Linked DNA regions of Homo sapiens: region 1 is linked to region 2. The links come from fine-mapping of genetic effects on gene expression. A gene starts in region 2. The other region holds a variant in brackets. All regions are shown on one strand. Distances are between the middles of the regions.

Region 1 (5,352 bases), 160 kb after region 2:
TACTGAAATCTTCTACTTATGCTGCCTACCCTAAGATGATAAATAACTTAAGGGAAAGGTCTTATTATGATGAGCCACACAAACTGTAGGCAGTTACTAATTATTTGATGATTTGCATGATTATGATAAAGGTTAAGAGGAAAAAATTTTTTCCTGTATCACTAAATTTGCTACAAAATAAGTACAAGTGAGGAATTTTGGCTCTGCTAGACCCCAACAATAATCCTATGATTGGCTGCTTTAGTAGAAAGAGAACAGTAAAAGCATTCATCAGAACATAATATGTCTAGTTTAACCACCAACTCTTTTGTCTAACAGCTGGGCTATGTGGGCATAGGCCAAAGAACTAAATCTCTTACTCATAAATTACTGAGTCATGAAAATAACACCTTCAGCACTCATGTCTTTGAACGGCAAGGACAGCCAATATGTAGGAGTTGCCAGCAAAAATGATTAATGTTGATGATATTGTGAAGTTCTGTGGTTTTAGCAATTCTGAGCCAAATAGGCGAGGCACCAGTCACCAGAAAGGAAAAAGGAAACTGTAGGTGTCTTACGTGATATACTTGTTATAGAGGATGAAGGCATGTTCAATGTTGCCTTCCTCAGAGTAAATGGATGCCATTCGGATAATCTCAACTCCAGAGCGGAAGTACCGACGGGGTGGAATGTCTTCATTCACCTCTACCGCACTACCCAGCTGGGAGAGAGCCCTCACCCGGTCTTCGGGCGGGAGGCTCACATCTCCATGGTCAGACATCAGGACCAAGTTCTGAGACAGAAAAAACAGATGGCATCAATACCGTTGCCCTCATCATCCCAGCAGTTTTACAGTTTATCTCACAGACCTCTACCTTAAGAAGAAAATATAAGAGAAACATACCAAATGCTGTGGCTCCTATTAAATAAGGACTTTCCTACAAGAAGGCTGAGACCCTCAAGGAAGCCCAAATCACAACGATGAGAGTACTGGCAGACTAGAAAACATACAACCCCTGTACCATAATTAGGTGGTATAAGGAGTAGAACCACAGTGGACCAACCAAAGGTTCAGTTCAAGTTAATCAAATCCTTTGCCATTAGGGGGCTCCGCCCACAGCACTGTAAAAGTGGGAACAGCATCTTTTATTTTCTATTATTTCTCCTTCCAGATACCCACATACCTCCACCCCAGTACCTGGCAGAGTGCACTCAGTGAACTTTCTTGAGGATTGTTAACTAACTTCAAGGTTGACCATTTTTACTTAATCTGAGAGTAACTGACATTTTCTGTGGTATCCTTTTTCATATTTGAGCACAAGGTGAGTTAGGGGAACTGGTCTGGGAATTAATGCTCATAATTGTAACTCTGCTCACTAAACCACTATAGTCAATCTATAAAATCATTCATTCATCATTATCATGGCAAGAGACTTAAATCTTGAAAACAACCATTTACTCATCTTCATAGACTAAACACTGAATAACAAAAAGGCACGATGGTAACTTGCATTGCAAAAACCCCTGGTGTCCCAAAACTCCAGTAATTCTAGTCTTTCTAGATATAGTTGCTGTTAGAATCAGATTCCAAATTCCAACCAGATATCACCACTATCATCTCCAAAATAAAACTGGGCATTTGACACACATTGCATTACAGCAAACCCTAATCAGTATGCTCTAGAATACACAAACTACAGTAGAATAAATCTTGGAATTCAAGGCCCTGTGGCAACTGGCCCTCCCCAACAGAGATCTTTTGCTTCAGTCAGGATTCCAATCCGCCCAGGCATCCTCACATTTCAGTTTCATTTATCTATCCAGTTTTTCTTTTCTACTACAACTCTTCCCTCAGGGGTAGTCTTCTCTCAGCCAATTCCATCTTTAGGTCTCTTCAATATTCGGGTCACAATTCCTCCACAAACCTTCCCCTCTAAAACACCCTCACTAATAGCACAAAAGCCGTGAGGACTACTAGGGATGCAGAGATAGTCCATCTCTCACGAGGCCTCCTTAGGGACTCAGAAAGCCGCAAGCATATCTAAAACCTCCCCAAGTAATTAGTAAACCTAGTCCACGGCCCATGAAAGTTAACTGAAACAGAGGATGCTTGTTGCATCTCAGTACCTCTTGGGAGAGGTTCTTGTGGGTTAAGAAAGGAACCACCTCCCAAGGCCAGGAAGCGGCGCCGGTTACCACC[T/C]GGTTGAGCAATTCCAAAAAGGGGATGCAGCATCTGCAAATGAGGGGGAAAGGCGGCGTAAAGGACCGAGGGGGAAATACGAGGAGGAGAAAGGAAGTAGCAGGAATGAGCGGAGGGGGCGTATACAGTAGGGAGGGCTCTATCGACAACTGCTTGAGGAACCCTTCTTGAAGGCACTCAAGACGAACTTGCCAACCCCAGGCACAATCATCCAGGGTTTTCGGGATCTTTCAAATGCAGTAGGCGGGGAACCGCTGGGCCTGGCTGGTCAGGCGCCAGCCCGCGGAGACAGAAGCCGTCGGGTGCCTCGAGCGAGGCAGGCCGGGCAGGGGACTCGGGGAGAGTAGGCTGCAGGCCCCACACTCACGGCGGCCGATCCCCTTCAAAGTCCAACCACGCTCGGAGGCCCTGCCCCACCACGTTCCCGGGACCCTTCCCCACCTTTCCCCGCGGATGACACCCGGAGGTTCCGGAAACGTCACATCCGGCGCCCGCTCCGCCCACTCCCGTTCGTCTGTCTATTACATTCCCAGTGATTTAGGACTTGGAACGGAGAGCTAGTAGGTGGGGCTAGAATCGGCACCTGCGGAAAATCCGACCAATGAGGAGCGAACGACACAGCGGCCATCTTGGTAAAGGAAAAGGAACAAGGAAGAAAGTGGAACCAATTAGCAAGCTAAGGTTTGCTTTTAAAATTATTTTGATTTGGGGTAGTCCCTCATCACACTCACAATACTCCTGCATTTAAGGAGGGATTGCTGATCCCAGCACAACTGCAGACTTAGCTAAACTAACCAGGATTTATAAATTGGGGGACAGAAAGTCTTTCGAATGTATTTTTTAGCTTGTATTACATTCTACACAAAAATTGGTAGTCTTAGATATTAGGCAATATCTAAGACTAATTTTATTGCTTAGAAAAGAACATAAGTCTAACTTTTTTTTTTTTTAAGACAGGGTCTTGCGGTGTCACCCAGGCTGTCACAGGAGTGCAGTGGTGTGATCATAGCTCACTGTGGTCTCCAACTTCAGGGCTCAAGCGATCTTCTTGCCTCTGCCTCCCAAAGTACTGGGATTACTGGCGTGTGCCACCGCACCCAGATGAGACTAACGTTTTAATGTCAAAAAACCTATAAAATATTTGGAAAAAAAGCGTTTAATCTCTAAGAGCCGCTATGCAAAAGCAGTGGAGACACAAAAATCTGTATGACACTGTTCCTGCCCTGAGACCGGGACAAGGTGGTTTTATGCATCAAATACAGAATGGCACGTTCTGCATGTAGATGTGTGTCTGTACGAATCCATATACATCCTCTTTACAAAAAGGTCCTACAAGCTTGCTAATCATTCTGTCTCAGAAGACTTTGTGAAACATTAGGCTTTGGTTTAAAAGTCTAAGTCTCTGGGGGACACTTTCCCAAAATTTGGGAGCCTCCCTGTGAGTTTGTTAGTGTGATGGCATGACCTATTCTTCAAGGTCTAGCTTAAATCCCTAATTCAGGTGTTGCCTCCTCCACCTAGCCAGCCTCCAGATCTCTCATTTCTCCCAACCTCCGTTGTGTATATTTCTGTTGGAGTTACCTGAAGTGATTTTGTGTAGTCATCAACTTTTCAGACTTAGGGTTGAAAGTACTTGCTTGCATCATATCACCTCCCCTTCTGCCCCCAGCAAGCATTAATGTGCATGGGTCTACTATCAACTCTCATGGATCTACTGCAGATAAATCTGGGAAGATAATTGTATAGGGCACTCTACTGTGTCTTCAAAACTCTCTCTACTGACTCTCTTCAGAATGTAAACATGATGGGTTGGGCCTAAAGAAATTGATGCACTGGAGATGCTGGTCATTGGGTGGGCATTATAGTGCAGATGGGGTCCTGGCAGGAGGCAACACAGGTCAAAATCTGATCCATTCAACCTCTCACTCAGTAAATGTTTACTGAGTGTCTACTATGTGCCAGGTTCTGTTCTAGGTGTTAGGGATACATCAGCAAACAAACCCAGCAGGTGGATACTCTAATGGTGGAAGCACAGGTAGAAGTACAGCTGGTGGGGTAGGGAGGGGCATCTGCTCCCATTCAGCACAATCTCTAAAGTAGTTCTTTTTTTTATAATGTTTAGCTTAACAAGTAAAGAAAATTTACAAACATCCTAGATTTTAAGATTATGATGAGAAGACTTTAAGAAGCTATAACTGAGACACACATATAAGGGGTGTGCATAGTCGTAAACATAGCTAGCGCCACATAGAGGCTGTTCCTGATATTAGAAAGTTAATATGCCCAGTTGCTAGCAGTTCTTAAGGTAATAGCTAAGTGAATATAGGAAGCAGGATCTAGTCTTTTTAGGGAGAGAATTTGTAAATGTTGACCAGAGTTTTTGATATCTGGGGCAAAGTTCAATACTCAGCTTTCTAGGGACCTGAAATAAGAAAATCTTGGCCAAGGTAAAAATTTTACATTCCTCATTTCTTGTTTAACTGGAAAAGTTTAAAAACTAAACAATTTTGTATACACAATCAGGAAATCAAAGCTATAAAAGATTCTTGGCATAACTGATGAGAATATCCTACCTACCCCTGCCCTAAAGATTGGAGGCTAAGCGTGGAAGGTATTCCTTCAGCAAATAGGCTTCAGCAGTTCACCTGGCAGACTAGACCAGGTTAGGAATTGAGATGCTCTTTCCTTCCGGTGCTCACTCCCAGCCATGAACACTTTTCCTGAATATAGCAGCCTCCATCTGGCCGCTTGCATATGCCAACGTCAGGTCTCCTGCACTCCTGCATGCTCATTCCTACTTGCTCATTTTTGGGCAGCAGCAAAAGATGCCTAGAAGGTGAAGTTCTTAATCTGAAATGTAACATCGGGGTTTAGAAAACACAGGCCTGGACCAGGTGCGCTGGCTCACGCCTGTAATCCCAGCACTTTGGAAGGCTGAGACAGGAGGATCGCTTGAGCCCAGGAGTTCGAGGATATAGTGAGCTATGATTACACCACTGCTCTCCAGCCTGGGCAACAGAGTGAGACCTCTAAAAAAACAAAACAAAACAAAACAAACAAAAAACCCAGGAGGATCACTTGAGCCCAGGAGTTTAAGGCTGTGGTGTGCTATGATCTCACCTGTGAATAGCCACTGCATTCCAGCCTGGGCAACATAGTGAGACTCCTATTGC
Region 2 (5,319 bases):
ACCTGCCAAGGAATTGTGCCAGGTCCCGAGAACACAGAAATAAAGTTTTTGACCGCAAGAAGAACTAAGATAGGGGAACCCAAAACATCAGTTCGTCACTAGATTCCCCAACAGTTTCAACTGGCTCTCTGGCCATCTGAGAAAAACGATGAAAGAAACATCCCACTCCATCAGGGCATCATAAAACCACCCTGTCAATCCAAAACTTTGTCTCCAAATCCATCAGCCTCCATCTCTTATCTTACACCCTCACTGACCAAGTCATCCAAGCATTAGCATGAGCTTGAAATACAACATCTGAGGCTTCAAGCAGCAGGACAAGAAACTTCTAGAGGTAAAGGTAGACATCACAGTCCCGCCTCAAATGCAAACATCAGAGATGAGGGTGCTAGCTCAGATCCCCCTTCTACCCAGTTACTCATACAAATTGTCAGCCCTGCAAAGGAGTCCAAACATGTCAGTTACACTCCTACTTAAAGTTGGACCAAGAGGATCAGAAATGAGAGAATGGACTCAACTGGACGAGCCTTGCTTGAACAAGACCCCCGTGATCACCGTGCCCTCGAGGAAGGAACAGGGTAGCCCAGCAAGGGCCGGCTTACCTCCTTGAGAAGCCCTACTTTTTTCTTCAGCACCTCACATTTTCGCAGTTTGCAGATCTGGTGCGTGCGGCGGTTGGTACAGCTAGTGCAAGCGCCACAGTTTTCCAGCCGCCGGCAGGGCTCACAAGTACCACACCGTTTCCGTTTCTTTCGACCATCTCCACCCCCTCGGAGTTGGGACTCACTCCCAGCCATGGAGAGCCCAGACCCCGGGAAGCTCCCTACCATCACCTGGCGCTGAGGGAAGTCATAAAGGCCTGGCAGGTCCGGCTGGACGGCCAGGGGCACCTGAAACTGGCTCATGATGCTGCCAGAGGTGGGGTCATAGGTGCTGGGGCAGAACCACAGTCGTTTCCTGCCACCTCCAAAGGCCACCAACAGGTCCTTCTCGCCTAGAACAGTCAAGAGTCTACAAGGGTGAAGGCAAGTGGCTTCAGTCTCGTGGATGGATGCCTCTTCTCAACCCCTCTTCACCTCCTCTGCAGCAGTCTGATCGGACTCCGTAGGGGGCCACTCTCCCACCTGCTGGGGCCCAGGATCTGGGGGAGGACACCAGCAGCAGCCCTCAGAAAAGGGATCATCTTGGCCCGGTGGGTTCTTCACCCTCACCCACCCTGGACCCAGGCATGAGTTGAGCAGGTAGGGGTGTGGTGGGGGCAGAGCTGAGTGAGCAGTTTCTCCTGGTATTTTTCCTCCAGGGTCTGGACGCTGGAGAAGGCAGTGCTGCCTGAAAAAGACAGAAAGGGGAAGCGCATCACTCGGGGCTCAGGGACAACTTTCACGTGTCACTTCTTCCTGTTTCTGGGAAGAGAAAATGGGGGAAGAGATGGGGCTTGCTCAATTGAGGTCCTGCCCAGAACCTCAGGCAGGACGCACCCAGCACCCGCTCCCTGTCTGAGGGAGGCGGCCTCGGGCCTGAGGGCTGCTGGGGGCCCTGGATTCAAGGGGGTGATCAAGGTGAGATTTCTAAGAAAGTTGCCCTCTTCCCCACCCCCACGGGCTGGTGAGAGTTTCACCAAAATTCCCCCACACGCCCTGGCTGGAGGCCGCCGGGCCCTCCCTAGGGAGCTGAGCTTTCAAAATAAAGTTTGCTGAGAGCCTCGCTCGGCGGGACTGCCCCGGCGCCCCCGGCACGGAAGCCGCCTGGAGGTGGGGGCGCGCCCTGGGCAGCCCGCGCCCGCCGCGCCCGCCGCCGGAGCGCAGCCCGCCAGCCCGACTGGGGAGGGCGGCCCGCGCCGCCGAGGGGCGCGGGGAGGGGGGCGCGCTCGAGCCGCGGGCCGGGCCGCGCGCGCGCCGCCGCTCGGGCTCCTTTGTTCTGGGGCCTCCGCCACTCCGCTCCGGCGGCTTCGCAGCCCCCGCCCCCGCCCCGCCACCCCCGCCCGGCTCAGCCGCACAGCGCCCCGCAGCACCCCAGTCCGGCCCCCCGCACCGGAGGAGCGGCCCCCCGCCGGATCCGGGCCGTCCCCTCCCCCTCCCCCGGGCCGGGCCCCCCGCGCCTCCCGCCGCCCCTCCCCCACTCCGGAGCCGGAAAGGCACCGACTGCACCGACCTGCCCGCCGCCTCCGGGGCGGAGCGCACAAAGGGGCAAAGTTTCCCGGCCCGCGCCGCCGCCGCCACCACCGTCGCGGCCGCCGCCGCCGCCGCCTGGGGCTCCCGCCTCCCGGAGCGCCCGGCCCGACCGAGCTCAGCGCGCGGAGCCCCCCGCCCGGGCCGAGGAGGGGACGGCGCAGGAGGAAGGAAGAGGCAGCGGCGGCCGCGGCGGCAGCAGCAGCAGCAATGAAGGCGTCCGCGGGACTCCCCGCCCCCCGCGCACCGCGGCACGTGCTCGCCCGGGGACTCCCCCGCCCGGGAGGGCGCACACGTGCGGCCCCGCCGAGCCCCGCCGGCCCGGCCGGGCCCCGGGCCGGGCGAGAGGGGGGTGGTTCCCGCGGAGGGGAGGGGTCGGGTGGGCGGCCTGCGAGCGGCTTGGGGCAGGCTCCGGCCCGGCCGCCGCTTCTCTGCACCTGCAGTGGCTCCCACCCACGCGGTCGGCCCTCCCGGGAGGCGGCCGCCCCCTTCGGGTTGGCCACCCTCGCCCTCCGGCGGGGCTGCAGCCGGGGCCGGCGAGGCGGGGTGGGGCACGCGGACCTTCCAGCCTAGGCCCTCGGCCGAGCCTCGCTCGGTGTCCCCACTTCCTGCCACTCCCTGCGGGCCAGATCTGTCCGGGACAGCCCCGGCGCCCCCGGGAGGCCTGAGCGCCGGGCCCGACTGACCCCCCTGTCCCAGCTGCCGCTGGCTCATTCCGAGGCAGGACAATGGGGGACATCGCGCGTTTGCGTACCGAGTCAGCCTGGCCGGCAAGAAGGGGTTGCTCGGGGGCAGAGGCTAAGGGCACCCTCGCAGGGGTCACGGCCGAATGCCCTGTCCAGGTGGACCCCACGGCCCTGCCATCACCAGCCTCCCCCGCGCCGCGCTCGATTCTTTCGCGTCGAAAACAAAGACTAATCCGATACCCCCGCCCTGCCTCCCAGAGGAGGGGGAACGGGCGCGTCGCGGAGGGTAACTGAGGAGGACAGCGTTCAGGAGGGCCTCGGACAGCCTCGAGGGGGCCGTGGGGCGACTAAGCCCTAAAACCCGGCGCAGACACTTTGAAGAGTCACCCTGGGCTACGTTCCAGGCAGGGGGTAAGGGGCAGGGCTCAGGAATATTTCCAAGTTGCCAAACTGCCCGTTCTCTCTGCTGCTTTTTTCCCTCACCTGTTGTGCAGGCCAAGTTGAAATTCCAGGTTAGATTAATTCAGCCCCACCCATCTGGCCTGACTGCCAGGCTGGTGCCTGCAACTGCCTTCCACCTACCTCGGTTGCAGGGGAGCAGGGTGGGTCTCTGACATACACGCGCACACACACACTCGGGCGAGTCCTGGCAGAAACAGCCACAGGACGGACTGGCCTGACCAGTTTGGGCGGTGCTCACGGAGCCAGGTACCTGGCAGGCGTCGCCGCCCGGCTGCAGCTAACAGCTTAGCCAGAACTGGAAAAAGAGCATTCGGCCGGCTATTTAGAAAGAAAGAAAAAAAAGTAACTGATCTGAAGTAGCGCTGTCCAGAAAGCCCTAGGCGGTAAAGCAGCCCGGGTTCTATCTGGAACTTCCCTCTGATTTTGACAGCCTGCTCCAGGGTCCAGGTTGTCAGCGAGGGAGTGGGTGGGGGTGAACATGGCTGCAATATCCACTTCCTACCATGGCCTTTGGGAGGACTGAAGAGTTTCTGTTCAGGGTAGTAAGACTAGAACCGAGACGAAAAACCAAGAGAGTGCAATTTTCAAACAGGGGAACAGGTTGCAGACTCGTAATTGTTTTTAATGTAATATATTTTTAATAAGCAACTTTATTAATAAAAAATGTGTATAAAGAAGACGTGGAGACTACAGATACTAGAGGGGAAAAATCACCAAATTACAACCATATTTAACCATTTGCTATATTTCCTTGTAGCCTTTCCTATTTGTGGATTTACTCACACTGATTATACAATTTGCCATCCTCTTTTAACTTAACATTGTACCATAGGCATTTCCCTGTTTGGTATACAGTTTTCAGAAAGTGTGACAGTGAGGTGAAGAAGATGGCTCAGGAGCCAGAGAACTCTGGCTTCCAAACCTGAATCTGCCACTTGGTAACAGTGTGACCTTGGACTAGGTACTCCATCTTCAAGGGAATCCAAGTAAAAGACTTAATATAGGGCTCAATGAATGACAACAACTAATATTGTTTAATCCATATGACAACCTTGTGAGGTAGGTACTATCATCAAACCCATTTTATGGATAAGAAAACAGATTAAATAACTTGCCCAGGATCACTCAGCTAGTAAGTTGTGGACTTTCAGAGGAGCCCAGCAGCCATCCTCTTGTATTCTGTCTGGGTAAATGGCACCAGCAAGTTACTGTGTCATTTACTCTTTGCCAGCAATCTATGAGAGGGTCATTTCATAAAGCCCTCTCGTTTAGGTAACTGGGTGAATGCTGGTGCCATTCACTGTGACAAAATGCAGAAGGAAGGATGCCTGGGGATGGAGACATTCGTGTGAAAGTGAGTGTGCAACTGAGGGGGTGAGGCCTGGGTTTGAGATTTGGGCCCCATCAGTGAGCAGACAGCGAGGCCTCAGTTGTGGAGGAGCTCATCCAGGGTGGATATGGAGTGTGAGAGGGAAAGGCTGCCAGGACAGAGCCCCAGGGAATACCAGCCCATGAGGGACAGGAGCTGAGAAGGCGCCGCCAGAGAGGTTGGAGGGAACCCAGCCAGGCTAGAGAGCTGCCTGTCATATCTTCCCGGCCTCTGGAACCTTACACTTCGGCAGTCCTGTTGCTCATTCCTTCTGCCTGGGGAAAAACCCTTCCCACCCCACCCCTTCTCAGCTACCCCTTGTACCTGCCAAATTCCCACTCATCCTGCAAGTCATAAGTGCCAGTTCCATGAAACCTCCAGCTGCTCAGATGATTCCAGAGCCCCACCCACTCTCCCTCCACAGAAGTTTGACTCTCCCTGCCTAGGAACAGTTATCTCATCGGCGCTGGGCACTGGAATGGTTTGCATGTTTCTTTCCCAGTTACTACAAACTCCTGGAAGGGTAGCACGCTGTCTTTCACCTCATAACCCTAGACCTAGCAACCAACCACTGTGTTGAATGAAGAGACGAGGTGAGTAGACCCTAATGAATGACAGACCCCAGTAACACTGA

The links. PIP is the estimated chance that this variant, and not a neighbour inherited with it, causes the effect.
Region 1: its variant is fine-mapped to the expression of TET3 in whole blood (INTERVAL, PIP above 0.99).

Annotation. Positions count from the first base shown.
Region 1 is chr2:73,826,265-73,831,616 of GRCh38, reverse strand. It overlaps STAMBP (STAM binding protein), which reads right to left and starts at 2,656. Exons shown (of 10, transcript NM_213622.4): 1 at 2,107-2,656; 2 at 558-772. The coding sequence starts at 760. It overlaps LOC105374807 (a long non-coding RNA gene), which reads left to right and starts at 1,219. Exons shown (of 3, transcript XR_940246.3): 1 at 1,219-1,301; 2 at 2,713-2,860. RefSeq lists an enhancer at 1-1,159 and a silencer at 2,667-2,885. The variant T/C (reference allele first, on the strand shown) is at 2,180.
Region 2 is chr2:73,981,990-73,987,308 of GRCh38, reverse strand. It overlaps TET3 (tet methylcytosine dioxygenase 3), which reads right to left and starts at 2,399. Exons shown (of 12, transcript NM_001287491.2): 1 at 2,152-2,399; 2 at 603-1,329. The coding sequence starts at 905. RefSeq lists enhancers at 977-1,206, 3,100-4,023 and silencers at 1,687-1,856, 2,280-2,478, 2,237-2,926.